Linked DNA regions of Homo sapiens: all the other regions are linked to region 2. Evidence: fine-mapped expression QTL. A gene starts in region 2. Each other region holds a variant in brackets. All regions are shown on one strand. Distances are between the middles of the regions. Region 1 overlaps PHACTR2 (phosphatase and actin regulator 2). Region 2 holds the start of PHACTR2 (phosphatase and actin regulator 2). Region 3 has its middle 28 kb from the start of PHACTR2-AS1. Region 4 overlaps PHACTR2 (phosphatase and actin regulator 2). Region 5 overlaps PHACTR2 (phosphatase and actin regulator 2). Region 6 has its middle 6.4 kb from the start of LTV1.

Region 1 (4,091 bases), 93 kb after region 2:
TGTTTGGAATACAAATATCAAAACTTTCAAGAAGACAAGTGGCTATGTATAAAAATACCTACCTCTCTTCCCATATGGCAGGGTACTAATTATTTGGTAGGCTTCCATTCATGGGCAGCTTCATCAGTAACACATATGTGTGATACAATATAAGGTGAAAACTAATAAGCCCATTTGGAGGCCATATCCAAAAGGCTACTTTGTACAGTTCATTTTCACAAACATGTATAGAATGCACTATATTGTCCAGTGTGCCCAGGAACCCGAGGGGGAAAAATGAGGGGTAAGTCATGAGTTGATTAATACAAATTTGGAATATATTTAACATCAGATATAATTTATAACATAACTCATTAAGTGTAAAATATAATAGTATAATAAATGTAAAATTTAATAGGTAGACCGAGTCTTCAGTCTGGATTCTAGACAAGACTTGCTACCTTGGTTAGGCAACTCACTCATGGTCTTCTTTGATTCCATGAACTATAAGTTATCTGCCCTCCTTATACAATAGAATACTTGTAAATTGTAGATGTATGCTGGACTCTTTGAAAACCATGAAACAAAATACAAATAGTAAGATTAGAATAATAATCAATATGATAATTAATTAGTGAACAATGACACCAACAAATAAAGGACTCATCTCTCAAATTTGTTCTGTTATTCAGAACATATTATTAATTGGCATGTATTTTAAACATTCTGTGATCACCCATAATGGCAGCCAATTCAAACAAGAATGGCTTCCAGTGGCAATCAACTAAAAACCCAGACTGTGGAAAATTTTTCCTATAAAAATAGATCTTCTCTTATTTAAGATGAGATTTCACACTGTGGAAAACAGTATGGTGGTTCTTCAAAAAATTAAACATAGAATTACCATGTGATCCAGCAATTCTACTTCCATGTATATAGCCAAAATAATTGAAAGCAGGCACTTGAATTTGTACACCAGTGCTCAAAGCAGTATTATTCACAATAGCCAAAAGGTGAAAACATACAGATGTGTATTGATTGGTGAATGGATAAACAAAATGTGTTATATACATAGAGTGGAATATCATTCAGCCTTAAAAAGGAAGCAGATTCTCACACATGCTACGACATGAATGAAGGAACCTTGAAGACATTATGCTAAGTGAAGTATGTTACATACAAAAAGACAAACATTGTATAATTTCTCTTAGAGAAGGTGCTTAGAATAGTCAAATTATAGAGACAAAAAGTAGAATGGTAGTTGCCAATGGCTGGGAGATAATGGTTATGGGGAGTTGTTTAATGGGTAGAGTTTCAATTTGGGAAGACGAAAAAGTTCTGAAGATGGTTGGTGGTGGTAGTTACACGGTAATGTGAATGTGTCTAATGCCAGTGAACTGTACACTTAAAACTGGTTAAAATGGCAAATTTTATGTTATGTATATTTTACACAATAAAAATGAGATTTCCTATTTCCCTGTTTGAGAACAAGAATATAGTCTGTTGGGTTTTTCTGATAAGTGAGAAACAAAATTTTGACAGTGATCACTCAGGTTTATAACTATGAAGTAGGGTTTTAAATACCTCATATTCTGATAAAGTTTATCTGTGTTTATTGCTGGAAGAACTTTTTACCAGAAAGCAATTTGGGGGATCTTTGTGTCTTAAAATGAAGATTACATTATTTTTGATGTGATGTTTTTATGTAAATTACTATGTATTTTTTAGTCTAGTCTTTGAAAATTGGCAATCTTTGTACATTAATAGTAACTCTTTAAATCATAGACTTTTACTAGGCTAAATAATAGAAAATTATTGC[T/A]TCCTTGCATATCACCTTTTTTCTTTCTTTCTTTCTTTTTTTTTTTTTTTTGAGATGGAGTCTCGCTCTGTCACCCAGGCTAGAGTCATATTACCTTTTTTCTAAAAAGTGTATTTAACTTGCACATTGTCTGTTATGTTACAAGAGGCAGTTTTAAAAATGAAAACACACATAGGATAAATGAGTTTTTACTATTTACATATTGGGATAAAAGCAGGATTAATTCATATATGTACTTTACATATATATATATGTATATATATATATGTATATATATATATATGTATATATATATATATGTGTGTATATATATATATATATATATATATATATATATATATATATGCTTTTTTTTATTTTTTTGAGACAGGGTCTCACTCTGTTACCCAGGCTGGAGTACAGTGGTGCTAGCATGGCTCACTGCAGTCTCGATTTCCCAGGCTCAAGCAATCCTTCCCAGGCTCAAGCTGGGACTACAGGCAAGCGCCACCATGCCCAGCTAATTTTTTATTATTTTATTTTATTTTATTTTATTTATGTATTTATTTAATTTATTTATTTTTGAGACGGAGTTTTGCTCTTGTTGCCCAGGCTGGAGTGCAATGGCGCGATCTTGGCTCACTGCAACCTCCACCTCCCGGGTTCAAGCGATTCTCCTGCCTCAGCCTCCCGAGTAGTTGGGACTACAGGTGCCGGCCACCACTGCTGGCTAATATTTTGTATTTTTAGTGGAGACAAGGTCCCCTATGTTGCCCAGGCTGGTCTTGAACTCCTAGGCTCAAGTGATTCTCCCACTTCAGCCTTCCAAAGTGCTGGAGTTACAGGTGTGAGCCACCGAACCCAGCCATATATTAATGAAAGAAGATGTACTTTTCTACGTCATTACCTTCTGGGTGCTGTGATGCAAAACAATGAGTCTCACTTTTCCAGGAACTTGTGGGATTGAGAAGGCAGAGAAGCAATGGGTGGTCAAGATGTAGTATGCTAAGCACTCTAGCGGGATCGTCTTCAGGTCCCCATGGGACAGACGTGGGGGCAAGGAATTAAACTGAAGGTCCATGAAAGCTTCCTGAAGGAGCTGAGGCTGTAGCTGACACTTGAAGGAAAAAATAATTTGCAAAATGTAGTTTTACCCTATTTGTTTGCTAAATGTATCAGATACCAAGCGTTTGCATTTTACAGATGAAAAATGTAAAACCTTGAGAATTAAGGTTTCATTTCAGTGACTTTAGCCTGGCCTATGTCAAGTGTCTGCTTTCCTCAGCCTGAAGGAAGCCCATGAAACTAGAGCTCTTTTTCTTAGTGTCAGTGCCGCCAAGGGTTGCTCTGAGCTTCACATCACTCCCATGCTTTTCTGCCTTTAACAGTTTCACAACCAAAGAGGAGCTGGGGAAGACAGTGCCTCAGCTACTGACTCCTGGGCTGATGGGCGAATCTTCAGAATCCTTTAGTGCCTCAGAAGATGAAGGCCACAGGGAATACCAAGCCAATGACTCTGACTCGGACGGGCCTATCTTGTACACCGATGATGAGGACGAAGACGAAGATGAGGATGGCAGTGGAGAAAGTAAGACTGTTTTCAAGAGGCAGGGAGGAGCGTGGGTGATAAGCAGAAGCAGCTGCAGTTTATAAAGAATAAAAGCCTCATTAGGAACCAGACATCTGATGTTTTCTTTCCCCTCATCCTCCTTTCTCAAATTAGAAATGTGTATATCCTAAAGTTTAGCTTTTGATGGGAGGCCTTTCCAGAAGATGATGTCACATGGCTGGATCTGGCCTTTGTCGATGAGCTAGATGAGCTAGATGTGCTAGATGTGCATATTAGTATTTGTGCTGAGAATCAAAGCTTTCTAATAACAGAGACCTTTCTCACTATGACCAAAGAGAGCCCTTCCACTCTGGGCCTGTTGTTGAAGAAAGAAAGTCAGTGCAGATTCATAGGCTTACTCATTGGAGGTGTTTGAAATTTTCACTCGCTTTTGTACTGGGGTTTATAGAAAGGGGAAGGAGGAATGAGTCAAGAATGCCAAATACCTCATTAGCATTAAGAGGCTGGGCACGGTGGCTCATGTCTAATTTTGGGAGGCTAACGTGGGTGAATCCCTTGAGGTCAGGAGTTCGAGACTAGCCTAGCCAACATGGCGAAGCCCTATCTTTACTAAAAATACAAAATCCAGATGGGCATGCTAGCGCACGCCTGTAATTCCAGCTGCTCGGGAGGCTGAGGCAGGAGAATCGCTTGAACCCAGGAGGCAGAAGTTGCACTGAGCTGAGATCGCGCCACTGCACTCCA
Region 2 (4,091 bases):
AAATGATAGCAACCTTAAAGTTTAACTTTTATCAGTATTTAAAAATTATTACAGTTACATATTTTGAATGTGCAAAAGGTACTGTATATTTCCTCTGATCAGTGACCTCCCTTTATCAGAAAGACTGTCAAAAGGAAGAGTGAAACATTCTCCCTCTTAACTTACCTTTAACCACTTTTGTTTGTTTGTTTTTTTCTTACGGCAACTCAAAGCAAAGAGCTGGAGGAGCCAGCCATTATAATTGCTTACTCTCATCGCTTAGCGCCCCAGGTGGGATGTGTTTCCAAAACACATTTTTGTATTTATAAGGAAATGTAGTTAGGATTAATTTTATTGTCCTAATTAGAACTCACATTTTGGTTAAATCCTCAATTTCATTAAAAAAAAAAAAATCAGTGTTTCTTAAGAGTGAATTAGGCAAAGGGAAGAAGACAATGGATCACACTTTTTTAGGGAAAAGATCTTCCTCACAGTGGTGGGTGGGCTATTTGGGTGTGAAAAAACATAGGGCAACTTAATTAACCATGACAAAACAGACAAGTAAGTGCCTTTCAAAAAAATCAAACAAGGCTCTGCACGATCTTAATAATAAAAATTTTAGAAAAAAATGATTTTCATGTTAGTTCAGAGTTGATTGTCTAGGATAAATTAAAAAATGAAAGCTGTGGTAAATGACCTAAATATATTGCACTTTCTGATATTTTTTACATTTTAATGAAATATATGCCTTCAGCAAAGTGCACACATCATTACAGACATCTCAATGAATTTTCATAAAATGAACACATCCAGTAACCACCATCCAATCTAATGCACCATATACAGATGTTCCATATACTGTATATATATATACACACATTATATATATATAGCATGAAGATTACTTATACTAATTAATCATTAACTGTAAATATGAAGAATATTTATTTGTATTCATATTTTTAAGAAGATTGAGATTTAACAGGATATTATAGAAGGGTTTAATTCACCTTTCAAGTTTGTTATAGTTTTTTTCCCCTTTTGTGTATTTTAATCACTTTATTTCACAGTAATTCTTTTGAAATAAAGGAGAGGTCAGCACTCCAGAGTTTTAGGTGGGAGACAGCAAAAAGTATATTTTGTTGATCTCACACGTAGACCTACCATTTAGATTTGTTGTCAAGCCTGATTGAGGCCATTAGTGCCGTTTTTAAAAAATTATATTTGTTAAAAGGAAGATAATTTTTAAAACGAGAAAAAAATGGGCACAAGACATGAGAGTGCCACAATACTGCAAATAGAATGTAAGGAAGGAAATAACTTTTAAGAAACAAATTTTGTTAAATTAAGTACCGTGACTAAATACTTTAATTCCTTTTCTTGTAGCCCGTAAGGATCATTTGACTTTGAACCTTTTAAGTCAAAGAGGAGTAGTCTGAAAGCCTGAACTCCCTACCACCCTGAGGGGGTGCGGGTGCGGCGGGGCCGGCTGGGGGCTTCCCCCACCCCCTGCTCCTGCGCCCTCCCCCCGCTTCCCCCTCCTCCCCTCCCTATCGCCCTCACCCCCCTTCTTCCCCCGTGACCCCTGACCCCAGCTAATCTGCATAGAGGAATGACAGGCATCCGCTGGGCAGGATCCGCCGCGCCGGCTGCGGCCGGCCGGGCTGGGAGACCCGCGCGGGGTAGAAGGTGAGGGGACCCGGCGGGCCGCTCGGCACAGGCCGGGACATGAACGCCTGGAAGTCTGGCTGGGAGCGGACCCATGATCGAAGGACCAAAGGAGCCGCTTGATCGCTGGACCTGGCCCTGCGACCCCAGTCATGGGCCAGACCTCGGTGTCCACGCTGTCCCCGCAGCCCGGCAGCGGTGAGTCCGGGGCGCACGCGATGCGCTCCCGCCGCGCGGGCGCAGGGCTGGCGGCGGGGCCCCGGGGCAGGCAGGGTTAGTCGTCTGGTCGGGTTCCGCTCGGACCCGCCAAGTCCCTCGGAGAAACCCCAGAGGTAGCGCTCGCCAAACTCTTTGTCGTGAAAGAGGAATGCCTTTTGGGATCCAGCCGATTTTACCTTAAAGGCACAGGCTCCATTTTTCTGTGCGCGATGCCTCGCTGTGGTTTTTTATCCAAATTATTTCGGAGCCAGAAACTTACGGGAAACGCCATTTGCGTATTACAGTGTTTTTAAAAACGCGAAACTTAGAGAGCAAGAGAAACATGCCAACAGGTTTTTCTGTATTTACGCTTGGCTTCCGAACAGACTAGGACTGAATGCTTTCAAGCTTGTCAACTGATTTATGGTTTGTTATTCGGAGTAGAAGCGCTGATCGCCTTATCCTGGCAGACGCTGAATACTTAATAACTAGCCCCGAAATGCGTAATTGTTTCAAATGAGACTTGTTTTGTTTATAGTAGATACAGCAGCTATAACATTTAGGGAAACATATCTCATGAACTTAGTTCTCCAGGACTAAAGTTAGTTTTATGGAGACGTGTGTAACGTGTCTGAGTTCTAATGCTCTGTTTTAAAAGTTTCTTTTTTCCATTTTCTTAAACAAAAAGAGGGAAGGAAGGTACGTCTGGCATTTCCCCGACAGTGTAGGGATAAAAAAAAAAAAAACTGTTTGGTGGTGTTACTTGTGATTGGATAAGGAAATAAATTTAAAAGGTACTATTTTGATATTTTTCCATCAACGATTAAAAATAAATAATACTCGAAGGGACCGTTTATGTTACTCATTGAGATATTTGATACACTTTTTAAATTGTGCAAACATCAACAGGATCTTGCTGAAAGGAAATGACAGGGTACAGAGGAAGGTTTTTTAATCTGCCTCAGGATGTCTAGCTAGATAGCATTCTGTCATTCCAACCCCCCACCCCACTTTATACCCAGTGGGTTTCTTTAGGTAGCACAGCTTCACTCCCTGAGATACCACAAGCTTTGCTGAGGTTTCTGTTAATACCACAGAAGACCCTTCTGCAAAGAAGAGACATCAGAATCAGAATATACCTTCTTTACCATTAATGACATGGCTACAGCTCTGAAATCAAAGACCTCATGTTGACAGCTTTTTGAGAGATATTTGCGGGGAGGGGTTGAGTAGGATTTTAAATTTAGTAAACTATTTTGTGCAAATAAGACTTGGTTTCCTTTGTCTTACCTTAAAGTGGTGTGAGACTTCTTTTCATTTCAAGGAAGGGTTATATTTTTACATTTGTGCACCGGCGAAGATAGAATTAAATCTGTACTCCAATACAAGAGTATACAGAAAGTATTGTCCTGAATTTAGTGATTTTATCACAAAATATTACTCGAGTGAATATTAGAAAAGCAAATTTTGCCTTAATAAAAATCAAGGAATATTATATAAATGATGTCTAAGAAGCAAATAAAATCCTAAAGTGAGACTCCCTACGTCTTAGTACAGCAAAAAAACCCGGATTGCTATAATTCCAAATAAAATGACTGATTATAATGAGAAACTGTAATCTACTTAAGTAAAAAGTGTTTTAAACAAAAATTTATGCTTGATCATGAAAGATAATTCAGAGAAATATCTCACGGAACGGTGTTATACTTAAATTGCAGGTCCTCAGTTTTGCGGATTAAAAGTTTGTATGAATTGAAATGACCAATCCATACATCATAAATACAGGGTTTTTTATTTTTCAGTTAAGGAATGACAGTGGTTATGACTTAAGTTGTGGTATTGTAAAAGAACAGTTTTCTCGTGGTATCCAGTGTCTCTAAATCCGTTAGAGCTACCCTGTTTCCCTGAAGGTTTGCCATCAGATTCCAAATGAAAACCAAAAAAAAAAAAATTTAAATTAAATAACGTTTGCTGAGTTTTATATTCATGTCTGTATTTTTCTGAGTCTGAGACTGTCAAACTCTCTACTATTCCAGGTATTTTGTTCACTCCTTGTTAACTGTTTAACTCTGGCTTTACAGATGGCGTGAAGATCCTTGTTCTGTTTGATCTTAGCCATTGACTAGTTGTTTAAGTCTGGAGCAGCTGCTTAGGATTACAGTATTAAAGATGATTCTCATCTTAAATGCTTAGTGGGCGAAAATCTGTTTAAGTCAAAGGAATCAATAGCACAGAGTTTAATTATT
Region 3 (4,091 bases), 140 kb before region 2:
AGGTCCTTCACTGACACACAGAGTATTTCTCCAGCATGCCCCACAGCCTCTGCAGCCTCTGTAAGCCATGCAGGATGGATCTGAGAATCAGCAAGATGACTGTGCTGGGATCTCTGAATTATCTCAGAGGCACAATAAGAGGGTTACACGCCTTGTAAAAACATTCCTTGGCCTAACACTATAGTAGCCCAATTTCCAGCCCTTCTCCAGAAGCTCTGGGCACACACAGAGGCAGCACCTAGAGCAAGGTCATGTGTGGCTTGCCAAAACAGCCCCGGACCAGCATCTGTGGCCTCATCTCAGAATCTCAGGCCCCACCCTAGGCCTGCTTAACTGAATCTGCATTTTAATAAGATCCCCAGGTTGTTCTTAGTCACCTTGCAGTTTGAAAAGTGCTGCTCTCCCACACTGGTTTTCAAACTTGGCTACACGTAGGAATTGCTTGGGGAGTTAACAACGAAGCAACCTGTGGCTGGGTCGCACACCTAGGGATTCTGATTTCATTGGCATCAGGTGCATCCTGGCCATTAGATGACGCTAATGAGTAGCGAAGTTTGAGAACTGCTGTCCTGTGCCATATTATGTCACCCTGGCTTGCTGCCGTATGTCTTGTGATACCGTGATACAAGTGTAAGTTTGAAGAATTTGTTTTAGTACCTTCTCACATCCCTATTGCTACATCCTCTCTTCTACTACTGCAGTCTCCCAAGCAGCCTTCCTTGCTCCTATTTTTGATTCCAGCTAGTTGTCAGATGTTCTTCCTAAGGGATAATTTCTAATCATGAGTTAACTCCCTGCTGTGGGTCCTTAGAAGAGTGTTGAGGGGAAAAGGAAATCACCTTTTGCAGTGACAGTGACCTGAAATGGAGAAGAGGAAGGGGAAGAAAGAGTGCTTGCCAAGAGTTGTCAGAGAACAGCCTCCCTCCAGAACGACAGACCATCCTTGCTACCTGCAATCATTACCCCAGCCTCCCCCACAGCTCCACCTCCATCCTTCTTTCCAGGAAAGAATAATAAAAACTTGGAACTCAGCCTCTAAAATCTTGCCCACTGCTGCAAACAGTCAGTCTAATACTAAATATATATTTTTAAAGACCTGTTCTGTGCTAGCACTGTGTTGATAAATACCGTGAGGGTACCCCAAGAGAATCGGCTTCCCCTGACTATGCTAGATTATTACTAGATTTTTGTCAAGACAAGCGTCTCAGACTTCAAGGGATTTTATTTAATTTGTGGCTTGAGGAATTTTTCACATAAGAATGCAAGTGCTTTATCAGAAAAAAAAAACCCAAGCCAGTTTTATATTTCAAAATCTATACAAAAAAGTTAAGAAAACAAAATATTTTCAAATAAGCAATTTTTAAAGATAGAATTGAAGTAACAGTGGAATTTATGAATAAACTCTTTTATTATGTTTATAAAAACGTGGATTCATTTTGCCATATGGTTTTTGAACTCACACTTCTGGAATTCAACAAAAGTTCTGAATTTATTTTTCTTTTTTTGAGATGGAGTCTTGCTGTGTTGTCCAAGCTGGAGTACAATGGCTGTTCGCCAGTACAACCATAGTGCACTGCAGCCTCAAACCCTGAGGCTCAAGGGATCCTGCTGCCTCAGCCTCCTGAGTAGCTGGTGTTATAGGCGCATGCCACTGCTCCCAGCCTTGGATTTTTAAAATCCAGTATTTCTTTGTAAATAAAGTGATGTTTAACTCAATTTTTAAAGTAAAATCTTGAAACAAGGTTCTCATAGTATATGGTCATGTATTCTCTTAAGTTTTAGACAGATCCTGTTCGGTATTAAGGAGCTTTGATAACTTTTTAGTGGTTTCTGATGTGCTGTTCTGATAAGCACAGTGTTTAGTAAGTAAAGAACCTGAAGACACACAGCCAGGGGCATAGACCATGTAAAGATTCAGCAAGTACCGACTGTTGGCCTACTGGGTGCCAGGTGCTGTTCTGGACCTGTGTGGGCTATAGGGAGGACCAAAAGATGTTTTTATTTTCATGTGATGATGCTTAGTCTTGCACATTGCACATTGGGCTGCATAGATCAGAGAACCATTCAAGCCACCTCCAAAAAAAGCAGTATAGGTGTGTGGACCACTTCATTAGCTTAATGTGCAAGTACAATCTCATCTTTTTATTACTGTGATTCATCTCTTCAGTATCCCTATGCCCTGGTATATATAGGCATAGGGGTAACAGCAAATCCAGGATCTTTTTCTCAAATCTTTAATTCCTGGTGTGTTCAGTGCTGAGTGGAAGTGAGAAATCTCGCATACCTCAATGTACTATCAGTTCATATGCACTGCTTCCTGGCCACTTCCATGAGATACTGCTGTCCAAGACCAGTTCTGCTGTTGGGTCACCTGTGCTGTTGGGGGAAGCTTGTGCTTGCTTATCCCTTGCTGGTGCTTCTACTATGTTTCTTACTGACCTCCAAGGTTGTAACTCTTTGAGTTGATGCTTTGTGCTCC[G/A]AAAGGGTGTCTGGGTCCCAAGAGGCTTCTGAGCCCCAGCCACGAGCTAAGCTGGAGGTGCCCTAGGCCAGGAACAATGAACACCTGCTCACTTTACATTTGTGTAACTCAGAGTGGGTTTTTTTCCAAACAAAGACCATCTGGTTCTAAGTTTACTTTCTGTCTCTCCCTGGTCAGGGAATAGCAAGGCCACCCTGCCCAGGCCAGCTCGGACAGTACAAGAGGGTGCTGGATGGAGCAGGTGCTGGTGGGCTCAGGTCCAGCCTGCGCTTTGCCCAGGTCAAGCTGTGTACCTGGTGTGGACATGTGTGCCTTCCTTCTCCCCCAGGGAGAGCACCCTTTTCTTTGCACAAAAGCCATGGGCTTCTCATCTACCCAGGAGCCTGACCGCCGGTCAGGCTTCATTCCAGAAGGGGCATCTCCTATCTGATTCTTACCAAGTTACCATAGCAGCTGATGACAGTCCTGTATCAGAGCTTGGCACATTTGAAAAATTGGCTTCACCTGTTAAGTCAGGAGGTCCTTATTAGGTCAGATTGCACCTGACCTGGGGCTGACACCAGAGAGTTGTCAGGAATTGAGGCAACCAATTCCTCTTTCTCTAGCCCTTTCCTAGGCTGGCATGGTTTCAGCAGGCTTGAGCTTCTGTTTGTCTCTCTGTTGACCAGCTTTCTTATTCTCTAATCAAAACAGATTATCTCTCCTTCATAGGTGTTTCCTCATCCATCTGCTTAAAATGGCACATCAGGGGTCCTACCTACCTGACAGCAATCTTCCTCTGTTTCCTTTTAGCTCTTGCCTTGTGTTTACCTGGGGAAAATTTCTTCATATTTCATAGTTCAAATTCTCTAGAAAAGACCTATTGTGTGAAGCCACCTTTATACAGCAAGACAGAGATCATATGCCCCATAGGTGCCTCTGGATTTGTTGCCTTTGATCAGATACTCACTGGAGCCGAAACCAGTTGTGGAGCATGAAGTCACAGTGCCAACATGGCCATGTAGAAGGGACTGAGCCTGGCCAGTTTCCATTCGTCCATTCATTCAATTAGTCTTTATTGATTACTGCTATGTGCCAGGTACTGTTCCAGGCACTGGGCATACAAAGGTGAGCAGATGTGATTCTGTGATTCTGGAGTTAGACTGAAAGCAGAGAGGATACTCAGAAAGGGTGTGGCAGGCCAGACACAGCAGTGTCTCTGGTGATCTAAGCTATAGGCCTTGCATCATGCTCAGTAAATAACATGATGATGATGATGACTGTTCTTGTTTTCAGAGGATGCATGAAGAGCTAATTTACTTAAACTAGTTAAGCTCTAGTTTGTGTCAGTACCTCAGTGGCAGCTCTGAGACAGATATTAAAGCCGTGGATTTATTCTGGCCCCTACGTACTGATGAAGATGCTGTAGGCAAGGGCATATCTTGATTTTTCATTTCTTCTTTCAATCAACAAATGGCTAGTGAGCTAACACAAAGGTTGCAAAGACATCCCTCAGGAACTCACAGTTTAGTGGGGAAAGACAGGCCAATAAGCCAAAGACCACAGTGCAATAAAGTATAAGCTATGATTAGTGCCCTGTCCTGGGCCTGGGGGAGAACCTAGGATGGTCGGC
Region 4 (4,091 bases), 69 kb after region 2:
ATATTCTGAGACAGCCCCTGCTTTGTGCGGTGTGTTGGACTAGAATGACCTCTCAGATTCATTGCAATGCAAACCCCCTCTGAGCCCATGAAAAAGTGTCCAGTGAATGTGCTCTGCAAACATGCAGGCACTATATAAACAAGAGGCAAATATTTTAAAAGGTGAAGAATGAGATACTTGTACTGCTGTGAGAGCGGTGGTTGGAATGTTGTGCCCCAGCAACATACTTTCCGTGCTCGGTCGCCTGCAGTTTGTTCTCATTGGCCCTGTACAGAGGTATCCGCATTGTGTGTTAAATACGCTCTCAGCGAAAGACCAAACAAATAGCCAACGGCATTTTCCTATCAGAGCCTGTTTATAGGAGGTAGAGCAAAAGAACAAAGCTGTTGGTTTTGATTCTTGGCAGGAAGCCAAGGCTGCTGCTTCAAAGCTCCAGAGTTTACAAGGAAGAAAGAGGGGGAATTTTTAGTTTACAAGGAAGAAAGGGGGAATTTTTAGCTGAGACTAAGTTAGAATTTAAGCAAAACTCAAAACTAAAACTAAAGAATCCTCCGGGATCCATAATGGAAAGGCAGAATAAGAAACCTGGTATGTTTCAGGCTATCGGATGATTTTTTAGTGCAAGAACGAACGTTTTAAAAGGTGCCCGAGCAGAGATTACAGACAGCCTCGATTAATGACACAGGATCACTCAGCATTTGAGCTGGATGAATTGTCCTTAGTGATCCTTGAATTGTGTCCCTTATTTTACAGATAATGGATTAGAGGCCCAGGAACTCAAAATGACTGCCCAGGGTCACTCAACAAGTTGTAGGAATTCAAGGACTAGAATCCAGGACTCCTGGCAGCCATTTTGTGTTTTGGGCAATTTTAAAGAAGCAGCAAACCAGTAAAAGTTTTGTTTCTTATGAGCAAAGGGCCGGTTAGGAAGACAGCCACCGTGATTGAATGCTGAATTGGCAGTGCATTTGGTTTGCGAGAATGTGGCCCGATCCCTAGGCCAGCGGCACTTGCTCTTGCAGTTGCCACCTTCATCCTTAAGTTTAGGGCAGAACAGCCGTGAATCTCTGGGCCTGTTCCCAGGAATGGAGGCCAAGACAACTGTTGGAGGAGGTCTACAGAGTCCCGCCACCCCTCAGAGCCCAGTCAAGCATGAATGGGCTTTTACAATCCGTAGGAGGCTGCAGTGGTCAAGGTCCTTCTAAAGCACCTGCAAAATCCCAGCAGTGTCCCACCTGTCACTGTGGGTGTTCTTTGGCTTCCTGCCGTTGATAAGAGTTCTCTCCTTTTTGACAAGAGGCCGAACAAATTGAAACTGTATTTAAATAACAACACTCTTTTTACATAATAGAACACCCAGTTTAAAAAAAAAAAAAAGACTCTTTGCCCGGTTAACTTTTTTCATTGAAATTACTAACCTTTAAGTGAGCTGTTGTTACTTGCTTCTGGAAGATACAGGAAGAATGGGGTCAGTGAGGAATCTAAAGGAAGGGAGGGAAGCCTTCTGTGTATGTCTCCTTTTTAACCCAAAGCTGTTCGTTGTCATTCTTTTGACCATTTATTCATTCATTCACTCATTTTCCTGTTTGTTTCTATTCTGATTCTATCCAAAAAAAGTTTGACAAAATGTGCAGTAAAGAGCTTATATATTGTACATAAAATATAAGTCAAGTCAGGTTTTAGAGAAGGAGGAAACAGAGATTCCATCCACGAATTGTCATATGAAATCTGTGTCAAATATCCAGTTTTACTCTGATCTTTCTAGCAACCAGGATTTAAAAAGGAATACACAATTTCTATTATCAGAAAGGAAAAAAAAATCCAGGTTCTTCAAGAGACTAAG[C/T]GTTGCTATTCTGTGGCACATGCAATTAGCAAACACTTAAGGAAGACTTTCATGCACTTACTACAAAGCTGGCTGCCCAGGGCGCATCCTCCCACCCTGTCTCCTATCAGTGTCCTTGCTTGAGGCCCTGGAGCCCCTGAGCAAACATGTTCTTAGTGTTATCACAAATGTCTTCTTAGTGTTATCACCTGCTCCCTTTGGATGTGTCAGAACCTGGTTTGGGGTAATGGCTTTAGTTTAGTTGAAACGATGTTGTCTAGAGCAGTTCCAGGATTTGCAGATAATGAGCCCAGGAGTAGGAATCGGGGAACGTCAGAAATCTCGTGCTACTGCAGCTGCATGTTGTCTACCAGTGTAGCTTTCCTGCTCTTCAAAGTGCCCTAGACTCCTTATCTGGCCCTTCGCTGCTGTATCAAAGTGCATTTTTGAACAGAAGGTCTGGAGGAAATAGAGTTCTGCAGAACACGCTTTGGGAAATGTTGACTCAGGATTAATAGATGACATGACCACATGTTAATTTTACGCACCTTCTTGGCCCCTGAAAGTGAGGAATGGACTTTGCAGTTGCATGGACATATAGAGCACAGGATTTAATACTATACACACTCAAGGGGAACACAATTGAGATCCTGCTCCGGAGCTCCCAAGCCCCATTCCAAAGTTCTACCAGGCATTTACATTTGTTCCAGAAGAAGGAAGAATCAATGTTAAGATCCCCATGGCTTTACATGTCTGTGAAAACTGATTATTATTATTTTTTTTTTTCTGAGATGGAGTTTCGCTCTTGTCGCCCAGGCTGGAGTGCAATGGCACGATCTTGGCTCACTGCAACTTCAGCCTCCTGGGTTCAGGCGATTTTCCTGCCTCAGCCTCCCAAATAGCTGGGGTTACAGGTGCCCACCACCATGACCAGCTAATTTTTGTATTTTTCGGAGATGGGGTTTTGCCATGTTGGCCAGGCTGGTCTCAAACTCCTGACCTCAGGTGATCCACCCACCTCGGCCCCCGCCAAAGTGCTAGGATTACAGGCATGAGCCACCGTTCCTGGCTGAAAGCTGATTATTCTTAACTGCCTTCTCCATCCTCCTAAGACCTGGGGATTGTCAGCTAATATATAAGAACTCTCTAGAATTAGTGAGAACGCAGGGGAAAGAGTTATAGAAATATGATGTGTTGGGCTTTTGTAATAGATGGAGTGAGAGAGAAAACACTAGAAAATAGTTCATTTTCCTGGAATGCAAATGGGTTACCCAGAATATTTACTGATGTTTATGTGTTTTTTTCTTTAATGTAAGCATACATATCTTCTTCATACACTGCATATCCATAGAATTATATGTTTTAGAATGCAACATTTCTAGCTTCAGCGTGAGAAGCAGGCTTTATGCTCTCTAGTTGCTATGTAATAATATGCCTGGACGCCAGGCCAAAGGTGGCCATTTGAAAGACCAGGGATGGCGGTTGGACTTCAGATCATGGGCTGCAGCCATTTGCTCTTGTCATAGCTGTGTTGATTCCACTCAGATCATGTGTTTTTTTTAAGCAACTAAGAAAACGAGTTTGAGCCCTCATGTGAGGAGAATAAATGTGCTCAATTCTACTTGGAATGTTTTTCATAATTATCTTAAGGAATGACTTGATTCTTACTTGTGCTTGTTCTTTTTAAAAGTATTAGAAAGGAAGATATCCACACGACAAAGTAGAGAGGAGCTGATAAGAAGGGGAGTGCTTAAGGAATTGCCTGATCAAGGTGAGGAAATTAATCATACATTTTAAATATTTTGGTCCTTCATTCTTTGGTTTTTCTTTTGTTTTCTTTTGAAATTTAAAGGGATCATGGTCTTTGTAAGGTAAAGCGGTGATTACTGCATTCCAAGCGCCGTGCTTCCATTGGTAATGCCTTTGTGAGCTGCAGAGAATCTGAAATATTATAGAATTCTAGTGACTTTCCTGGTGAATCCATCACCATATGTCATTCTAAACCTAAAACTCTGCAAAGGTACATCCGAGGGCAATACAGATGAGATACAAATGCTTACGGCTCCTTCTCTTCTCTATTCTTGAGCTTCAGTCTTTCTATTCACATGAAACTCATGTGTTTGAGTAAATGCAAAGTTTTAGCTTGGTTCATGCTATTTTGTTTCTTAAGACTACCAATAAAAGAGAAGAGAGAAGGCACACATACCTCTTGTCCTTTGCACTCTATAATAACACTGAAATGTACAATCAATAAAGCATGAATAGGCAA
Region 5 (4,091 bases), 140 kb after region 2:
AAAGGGGTCTGTATCTGTCTGAGTTCTCCAGAGAAACAAAACCAATAAGATATATGTATATAGATATATGAGAGGGGATTTATTAGGGCAATTGGCTCACATGATAATGGATGCTGAGAAGTCCCAGAACAGGCTGTCGGCAACCTGGAGACCCTGAGATGCTGGTAGCCTGGCTCAGTCCAAGGCTGGAGGCCTGAGAGCTCGAGGCAGTGGGGAGTACTGGTGTAAGTTCTGGAGTACAAAGGGTGGGGAGCCTGGAGTTGTTGTTCAAGGACAAGAGAGGAAGAGCATGTATCCCAGCTCCAGTAGATAGATTGACATAGTCTCCTTTTCTCTGTTTTTGTCCTCTCTGGCTCTCTGGCAGATTGGCTGTGGCCACCGACACTGAGGGAAGATCTTCCCTACCTAGTCCACTCAGACTCACAAGCCAGTCCCTGAAAACACCCTCACAGACTGTATTAGGCCATTCTTGACTGCTATAAAGAAATACCTGAGACTAGGTAATTTATAAGAAAACAGGTTTAATTGGCTCACAGTTCTGCAGGCTGTACAGGAAGCATAGCAGCATCTGCTTCTGGGGAGGCCTCAGAAAGCCTCCAATCACGGCAGAAAGCGAAGGGGGAGCAGGCACATCACATGGCAAGAATGGGAGAAAGAGTGGAGGAGAAGTGCCCCACACTTTTAAACCAGACCTCGTGAGAAGTCACTCACCATCACAAAGACAGTACCAAGCCATAGGGATCCACCCCCAGGACCCAAACACCTCCCAGCCCCACCTCCAGCATTGGGGATTATATTCCAACATGAGATTTGGCAGGGACAAATATCCAAACTGTATCATTTTGACCCTGGCTGCTCCCAAATCTCATGTCCTTCTCACATTTCAAAATGCTTTCCCAAAAGTCCCCCAAAGTCTTAATTCATTCCAGCATTAACTCAAAAGTTCAAAATCTCATCTGAAAAAAGGCAAATCCTTTCCACCTATGATCCTGTAAAATAAAAAACAAGTAAGTTATTTCCAAGATATGGTGGAGATCTATACTGGGTAAACATTCCCGTTCCCAAAGGGAGAAATCAGACAAAAGAAGGTGGCTACAGGCCCCATGCAAGTTCAAAACCCAACAAGGCAGTTGTTAAATCATAAAGCTCCAAAATAATCTCCTCTGACTCCATGTCCCATGTCCTGGGTACTCTGGTGTAAGTGGGCAGCTCTACCCCTGTGGATTTGCAAGGTGCAGCCCCCAGGCTGATCTCACAGGCTGGCGTTGAATGTCTGTGGCTTTTCCAGGCACAGGGTGCAAGCTGCCAGTGGATCTACCATTCTGGGGTCTGGAGGACAGTGACTTCCTTTTCACAGTTCCACTAGGCAATGCCCCAGCAGAGACCCTTTGTGGAATCCCCAACTCCTCATTTCCCTTCCACACTGCCCTAGTAGAGGTTCTCTGTGGGGGCTGTGCCCTTCCAGTAGGCTTCTGCCTGGACACCCAGGCTTTTCCATGTATCCCCTGAAATCTAGGTGGAGTGTCTGAAGCTTCCATCACTTTTGCATTCTGTGCATCTGCAGGCTTAACATCATGTAGAAGCTGTCAAGGCTTTCAGCTTGCACCCTCTGAAGCAGAAGCCTGAGCTGTATCTGGGGCCCTTTGCGCCAAGGCTGGAGCCAAAGTGGCTGGGATGCAGGGAACAATGTCCTGAGGCTGCACGAGGCAGCAGGGCCCTTGACCTGGCCCTCGAAAAAGTGAAAGAGTGATGTTGCCTCTGTGTATCAAATGCAGGCATGGCGGTCCTCACATCTGCCCAAGGTTACAGTCAGGGATAGACTAAGAACAGAACTCAAAGTGGACACATTCCTGCTTTAGTAATAAATTGCCTACCAGTTTTGTAAAGCTTGGTATATCTTATTTTTCTTTTGACTTTTGTCAAACACAGAAGTAATATAAGTCCCTCGTATCCAACTAGCAGCTCCTCAGTTATCAATTCGTGGCCCATCTCATTTCACCTGCTCTTATTTTTTAGTTTTTCATTTTGTAATGCTTGTATTCAACACAGTGACGTTTAGTAAGTACTATCACGTGCC[G/A]GAGATTGTATTCAATGAGTATGTAAAAATGGATAAGAAAGTTTCCTTCCTCAGCTTCTCATGATCCAATAGCAAAGGCACATGTATCCAAAGATTATATAATGTAAGCAATAACTGGCATAAGCCAAAGGTTATGGGAACACAGGAAAGAGAGCAATTAGTGCTTCCCTGAGCAGTGGAGAAAAGAGTTTGGAGAACTCACAGAGTGAGACTGCATAAAGCGCAGATGGTAAGAGAGATAAAGGTAGAAGAAAGAGTAGGCCAGGTGTGGTGGATCAAACCTGTAATCGCAGCACGCTGGGAGGCCGAGGACAGATTGCTTGAGTGCAGGAGTTTGAGAACAGCCTGAGCAACATAGCAAAACCCCATTTCTACTAAAAATACAAATATTAGCTGGGCATGGTGGTGCATGCTTGTAGTTTCAGCTACTTGGATGCTGAGGTGGGAGAATCACCTGAGCCCAGGAGGTTGAAGCTGCAGTGAGCTGAGATCGCACCACTGCACTCCAGCCTGGGCAATAGGAGTGAAACCCTGTCCCCCTCTGGAGCTCCCCCCAACCCACCCTGCAAAAAGTAGGTAGAGGAAAGGGCATTAGCGCAAAAGCCTTTTTGGGGCAAGTGATTGAAATGGAGAGTATTTGGAAGCAGTGATAGAGATATAGCTAGAACCATGAGTTGGGCCACTTTCTGAAAAGCCTTACTTGCTACTCCAGGAACTTTAAATTTTATTTTGTTGGCTTTCTTATTTTAATTTTGTTAAGGGACAGGGTCTTACTATGTGCCCAGACTTGTCTTGAACTCCTGGACTCAAGGCTGTCCTCCCACCTCAACCTCCCAAGCAGCTGGGATTACAGGTGTATGCTACCATGCCCAGCTTAAATTTTATTTTGTAGGTAATGGGGAACAATACGATCCTTTTGAGAAAGAACTGGGTTGGGCGCAGTGGCTCGTACCTGTAATCACAGCACTGTGGAAGGCAAAGGTGGGCAAATCGCTTGAGACCAGGAGTTCAAGACCAGCCTAGGTAACATAGCGAGACCCCCATATCTAATTAAAAATAAAAAAAGATTTTAAAAACCCCAAGAACTGAAATGATGGAACCAGTATTTTTAAGGATAGTGTGAGCAACAGTGAGGAGCATAGATTTGATGGAGAGAGCCTGGGACAGGGAAACCAATTAGGAGACTGGCTGACCAGAGCAGATGAGCATTCGACTGTAGAAGACAGAGTGAAATGCTAGGCAGAGTTGCATAAATGTGGAATTGCAGAAGTAGGCTGAAGAGCTTGATCACTTAAGGCTTTATGGAGAAGATAACTTTTGACCTTGATCTTGAAAATGAAAACATAGATAGGAAATGAAGGGAAGGAATTGCAGTATTAGTGAACAGCATGTTCAAAAGCACCGGGCTACAAAAATGCAAGGAATGTTCAGGAACTCACAAGGAGGGAAAGGAAGCCAGCTGGCTGGCTAACAAGCATACCGTAAAAGTAGTGCCAGCAAAAGATGGAACTTTAATGATTCCAAGACAGGCAGTTGAGGCAGGACTTGGTGACTAATAGGAAATGCTGGATGAGGGAGAGAAATGAATTGCTAATCTGAGGTTTCTAGACCAAAAATATTTTTAAAGATAGAATATTAAATAAGACAAAGTGCAAAGGCAGGTTAACAAGGAAAGCTTTGTATAGTTGTGGACATGCTTAGTATATACCTGTGGAACATCTGGGGGGAAGCGCCCTGTGGGCTTTTGGAAATTCAAGTGTAGAAAGTAGATTTGGAGTCGTCAGCAGGAGATGATGAGAGGCTGAAGCTAATGAAAAAGTGTCTATTTGTTACTGTGCTTTTATAATACAGACGAGGTGTACCAAAATCCCTTTGTGAAACATCTCCCTCTGCTTGATAAAGGTTAGAGCACGATGCTCAAGAATAGTGATGTTTTCTGTCTTGGTTGCTGTGTAACTTGAATACTATAACCAGCATCTTTTATATAAGGTTTCCTTATATGCTTATATGTAAA
Region 6 (4,091 bases), 160 kb after region 2:
GAAGCAATATTGGAAGCATGGTGGCCATTACTACTGCCATAATCTTGTTGGGAGGTGATGGTGGCCCCAAACAAGGTATTAACTATTGGAATGAAGAGACATAAACAGACTCAAAGGACAGTTATGAAGTGGAAATGATTGTTCCATATGGTAAATGGAGGAGATGGAAAAGTTAAGATTATACCTATCATGTGACTGGCTTGAGCGGATGGTGGTGATGCCACTTGCTGAAATAGAAAACAGCAGCGCTGAGGCTGATGTGAGGCTAGATTGGAGGGCAGGGAAGAGCAAGAGAGCATAGGAAGTACAGAAAGGGGAGGCATTCAAATTTGGAAATGCAATTCAATTTGTTTGAATTGCCTTCTGTTAGGACGTCCACATGTGGATAGATGTACAGTAGTCAGTTGGATATATGAGTCTGAAAGTCAGGAAAAAAGTCTGGGCTACAGATAGGAAGCTGAGAATCAGCAGCACGTGTAATGGAAGCTGTGGAAGTGGATAAACCTCTTCAACAGACAATGTAGCTTAAGACCATGAAGAAATTACTACAATAAAAATCTAATAAACTATTCTCTCATTGCCGGGTTTTGTCTCCAAGGCTGCAAAATCAAATCATTTATTCATCATCTAAGTGCTTAGGATGTTTGTCTTAATTTTAATGAGTTTTATGGGATAGCTTAACTTTAAATAAAATGGAATACTACATTATGTAGGGGGGTAAGTTGTAAAGCAAAAATTATATTTAAAAATGCCTTATATTGCTTGCACGTTGGTTCAATGTGCAAGCAAACAGATTCTCATGAAGTGAACCTGATTTGAAGCAAAGCTCGTGCCCCCTGACGCATCCTAGATACTGAAGGTCCTGTTTCAGGAAACGATCGTCCTGAAGTACAATGCAGTGAGGTGAATAACTACATTCAGCTGAGAAAACGACAGTAGCTCACGTTCATCAAATGCTTACTAGAAGCCAAGCACAGGTCCAAGTACTTCATACCCATCCTCTCATTTAATCCAACAACAACTCTGGAAGGTACGTATTAATATCATTCCCATTTTACATTCAGGTAAGTAAACTGAGGTCCATTTAGCCCGAGTTGCATAATACGAATGAAACAAATGCCAGAGACTACTTCCAGCTAGTATACAATGCATACTACTGTCATCAGTTAATATTGTAGGGGAAAATTTGTGCTTCGTGAGAAATGATGCATTGTAGAGACAAGCACACCTTTTGATTCTGATTTTATGAGGGTTCTGTGCCTCTCCTTATCTTTGAGCTATTTTACAACATTGTAAATTTCAGAAAGCTGACAGTCATGCAAAACAATTCTTGTCTCTAAACATCTACATAAATTCTGTCCAGTAGAGATTTCAACTCACTTCCCTCCCTCATCGTGGAAGAAGTAAGTTGTGTCTCCATTTGCACATTCTTCACAATATTCCTGCTCTATAAATGTTTCTGTTCTTTGGATTGTCCTTTGAACTAATTGTAACATCTTACTGGTTCCTTCATTAATCATGTGTAAAATAAGATCTTTAACATGTGCTCACTTTATATATGAGAGCCATGACATTAAATCCTGCTATAAGGATTTAATGGGTAAATGTATGTAAAGCACTTTGAACAGTGCGATTATTATTGAGCCTTCAATATGCTAGGCCCTGAAGAAGTCAAGTCAGCAAGACAAAGATCCTTGCTTTTGAGTAGGTGACTGAAGTCTAGTTCTAGAGACAGATGAAAATAAGAATTTACAACTTAGCATAACTGAGCAGGGTAGTGTGATCACAGGATACAGTGAGAACATTCGGGATGAGCCCCAGTTATGAAGAGCATTATCGTTCAACAATATTTATTGAACCAAATTATATTAGTGCCTCTTTCCTTTTATTTTTAAGTATTGCTACTTTATATATACATATAAAACCAAATGTAATACTTTAAGTCTTCACTCTAATCACATAAACATTGAAGAAATATCTCATATAGACACTGAAAGTTCCCTGCAATCCCATCCCAGCTCTTTGTGAATAATCGTTGTTGACAATTTGGTGCATAGTCTCCCAGATTTTTTTTACACTTGCACTATGATATTTCTTTTTTTTTTTTTTTTTTGAGACAGAGTCTTGCTCTGCTGCCCAGGCTGGAGCACGTTGGCGCAGTCTCGGCTCACTGCAAGCTCCGCCTCCCAGGTTCACACCATTCTTCTGCCTCAGCCTCCCAAGTAGCTGGGATTACAGGCGCCCGCCACCACGCCTGGCTAATTTTTTTGTGTTTTCAGTAGAGACGGGGTTTCACCATGTTAGCCAGGATGGTCTCGATCTCCTGACCTCGTGATCCACCCGCCTCGGCCTCCCAAAGTGCTGGGATTACAGGCGTGAGCCACCGTGCCTGGCTGCACTATGATATTTCTTTGTAACATATTTTTCTTTTTTCATACATTTTTAACAAAAAGAAGCCAGGCACAGTGA[T/C]GTGCTTATAGTCCCAGCTACTTGGGAGGCTGAGGCAAGAGGATCAATTGAGGCCAGGAGCTTGAAACCAGCTTGGGCAACATAGCAAGACCCCATCTCAAAAACACAAAACTTGATCTAAATTAAACCAGCATCACAGTAGCTCGTTGTATGAATGGTTGGTTGGTTTGTTTGTTTGTTTTAATTAATCCTTTACTAACGAAATTTTTCTTTTTTTAAGATATAGAGTCTTGCTATGTTGCCTAGGCTGGACTCAAACTCCTGGGCACCACAACGGGCTCACTAATGAAATTTTAATTGTTTTATTTTTACCAGCAGCGTTACATTGAACATCCTGGTACATCCATTTTGCTGCACTTTTCCTTTTTATAAACTAAGTACCGGCTGGGTGCGGTGGCTCACACCTGTAATCACAGCACTTTGGGAAGCTGAGTTGGGGAGATCACTTGAGATCAGGAGTCTGAGACCAGCCTGGCCAATATGGTGACATCCCATCTTTACTAAAAATACAAAAATTAGCCAGGTGTGGTGGTGGACACTTGTAGTCCCAGCTACTTGAGGGACTGAGGCACAAAAATCGCTTGAGCCAGGGAGGCGGAGGTTGCAGTGAGCCGAGATCATGTAACTGCACTCCAGCCTGGGCAACAGAGCAAGATTCCATCTCAAAACACAAAAATAAAATAAGTACCTCCATAAGCTTTATTAGGATTTTCAAACATGTAATTTATAACTCCTAGAAGTTACTGCTTCAGGTTCTAATTAGTTTTCTCGGCACTTCTGTGTACATTGGCTTCCTGGTGCTTGGGACTCCTTGAGTGATGTTGACGGAAGAGGGAGAACCAGTGAATGTGATATGAATGCGAATAAAACCATAATTTCAATGGCTTAGTTCCATATAAAAAATTTTTAAAAACTTATTCAAAGCCTAGACTAAGCCAGAAATTCTGTTTAATCACTTTAACATGGACACCAGTAATTAGAGCATACTAAAAGAGTAGAAGTATTGCTTGAATTTATTATCATTACTATAATATTTCAATTATTTTTGCTTTCACTGGAGGCGAATAACATTTTTCTACATTAAGACAGCACTCGGAACAGTCTCTGACACATATAAGCTCATGTTATATGTTGGAGTATTTTGTAACAAGGTGGTTTTCTGAAACGGGGTGTACAGTACTGTAATGGTAGGGTGTGACTCCGAAGCTACAACTGAGTTCACATTCTGGCTTCCTCACTTATGGACTTTGTACCCTGGGGCAAAAGTCACTTAACTTTCTGTTCTGTAATCTCTGCTGAGTAGAAAAGGGTAATTGCATGTCTACTTAAATCTGCTATAAGGATTTAATGAGTAAATGTAGGTAAAATACTTGGAACAGTGCAATTATTATTGAGCCTTTACTATGCTAGGCCCTAAAGACGTTCAAGTCAGCAAGACAAGGATCCTTGCTTTTGAGTAGGTGACTGCAGTCTGGTTCTAGAGATAGATGAAAATAAGAATTCACAATTCAGCATAACTGAGTAGAGTAGTGTGTACAGGATACAGTGAGAACATTCGGAATGATCCCCAGTTTTGAAGAGTATGAAAATGTTTCCTAGAGGCAGAGATGGTGTAGGGTCCC

What was found. PIP is the estimated chance that this variant, and not a neighbour inherited with it, causes the effect. A credible set is the group of variants that fine-mapping cannot tell apart.
Region 1: its variant is the best candidate, but not a certain one, in a credible set for the expression of PHACTR2 in thyroid (GTEx, PIP 0.84).
Region 3: its variant is the best candidate, but not a certain one, in a credible set for the expression of PHACTR2 in T cells (TOPMed, PIP 0.80).
Region 4: its variant is the best candidate, but not a certain one, in a credible set for the expression of PHACTR2 in testis (GTEx, PIP 0.65).
Region 5: its variant is the best candidate, but not a certain one, in a credible set for the expression of PHACTR2 in esophagus muscle (GTEx, PIP 0.76).
Region 6: its variant is the best candidate, but not a certain one, in a credible set for the expression of PHACTR2 in whole blood (TOPMed, PIP 0.54).

What each region holds. Positions count from the first base shown.
Region 1 is chr6:143,769,093-143,773,183 of GRCh38, forward strand. PHACTR2 (phosphatase and actin regulator 2) reads left to right here. Exons shown (of 13, transcript NM_001100164.2): 7 at 3,166-3,365. Among named protein-coding and RNA genes, the nearest start is that of LTV1, 72 kb to the right of the region's middle. The variant T/A (reference allele first, on the strand shown) is at 1,799.
Region 2 is chr6:143,676,365-143,680,455 of GRCh38, forward strand. PHACTR2 (phosphatase and actin regulator 2) reads left to right here and starts at 1,601. Exons shown (of 13, transcript NM_001100164.2): 1 at 1,601-1,845. The coding sequence starts at 1,800. RefSeq lists an enhancer at 945-1,793 and a silencer at 1,543-1,842.
Region 3 is chr6:143,539,428-143,543,518 of GRCh38, forward strand. It overlaps a transcript of PHACTR2 not described here. Among named protein-coding and RNA genes, the nearest start is that of PHACTR2-AS1, 28 kb to the right of the region's middle. The variant G/A (reference allele first, on the strand shown) is at 2,480.
Region 4 is chr6:143,745,473-143,749,563 of GRCh38, forward strand. PHACTR2 (phosphatase and actin regulator 2) reads left to right here. Exons shown (of 13, transcript NM_001100164.2): 3 at 3,513-3,593. Among named protein-coding and RNA genes, the nearest start is that of PHACTR2, 70 kb to the left of the region's middle. RefSeq lists enhancers at 569-1,239, 1,240-1,909, 1,910-2,579. The variant C/T (reference allele first, on the strand shown) is at 1,844.
Region 5 is chr6:143,819,376-143,823,466 of GRCh38, forward strand. All of the region lies in intron 12 of PHACTR2 (phosphatase and actin regulator 2), which reads left to right. Among named protein-coding and RNA genes, the nearest start is that of LTV1, 22 kb to the right of the region's middle. The variant G/A (reference allele first, on the strand shown) is at 2,078.
Region 6 is chr6:143,834,865-143,838,955 of GRCh38, forward strand. No RefSeq gene overlaps it. Among named protein-coding and RNA genes, the nearest start is that of LTV1, 6.4 kb to the right of the region's middle. The variant T/C (reference allele first, on the strand shown) is at 2,470.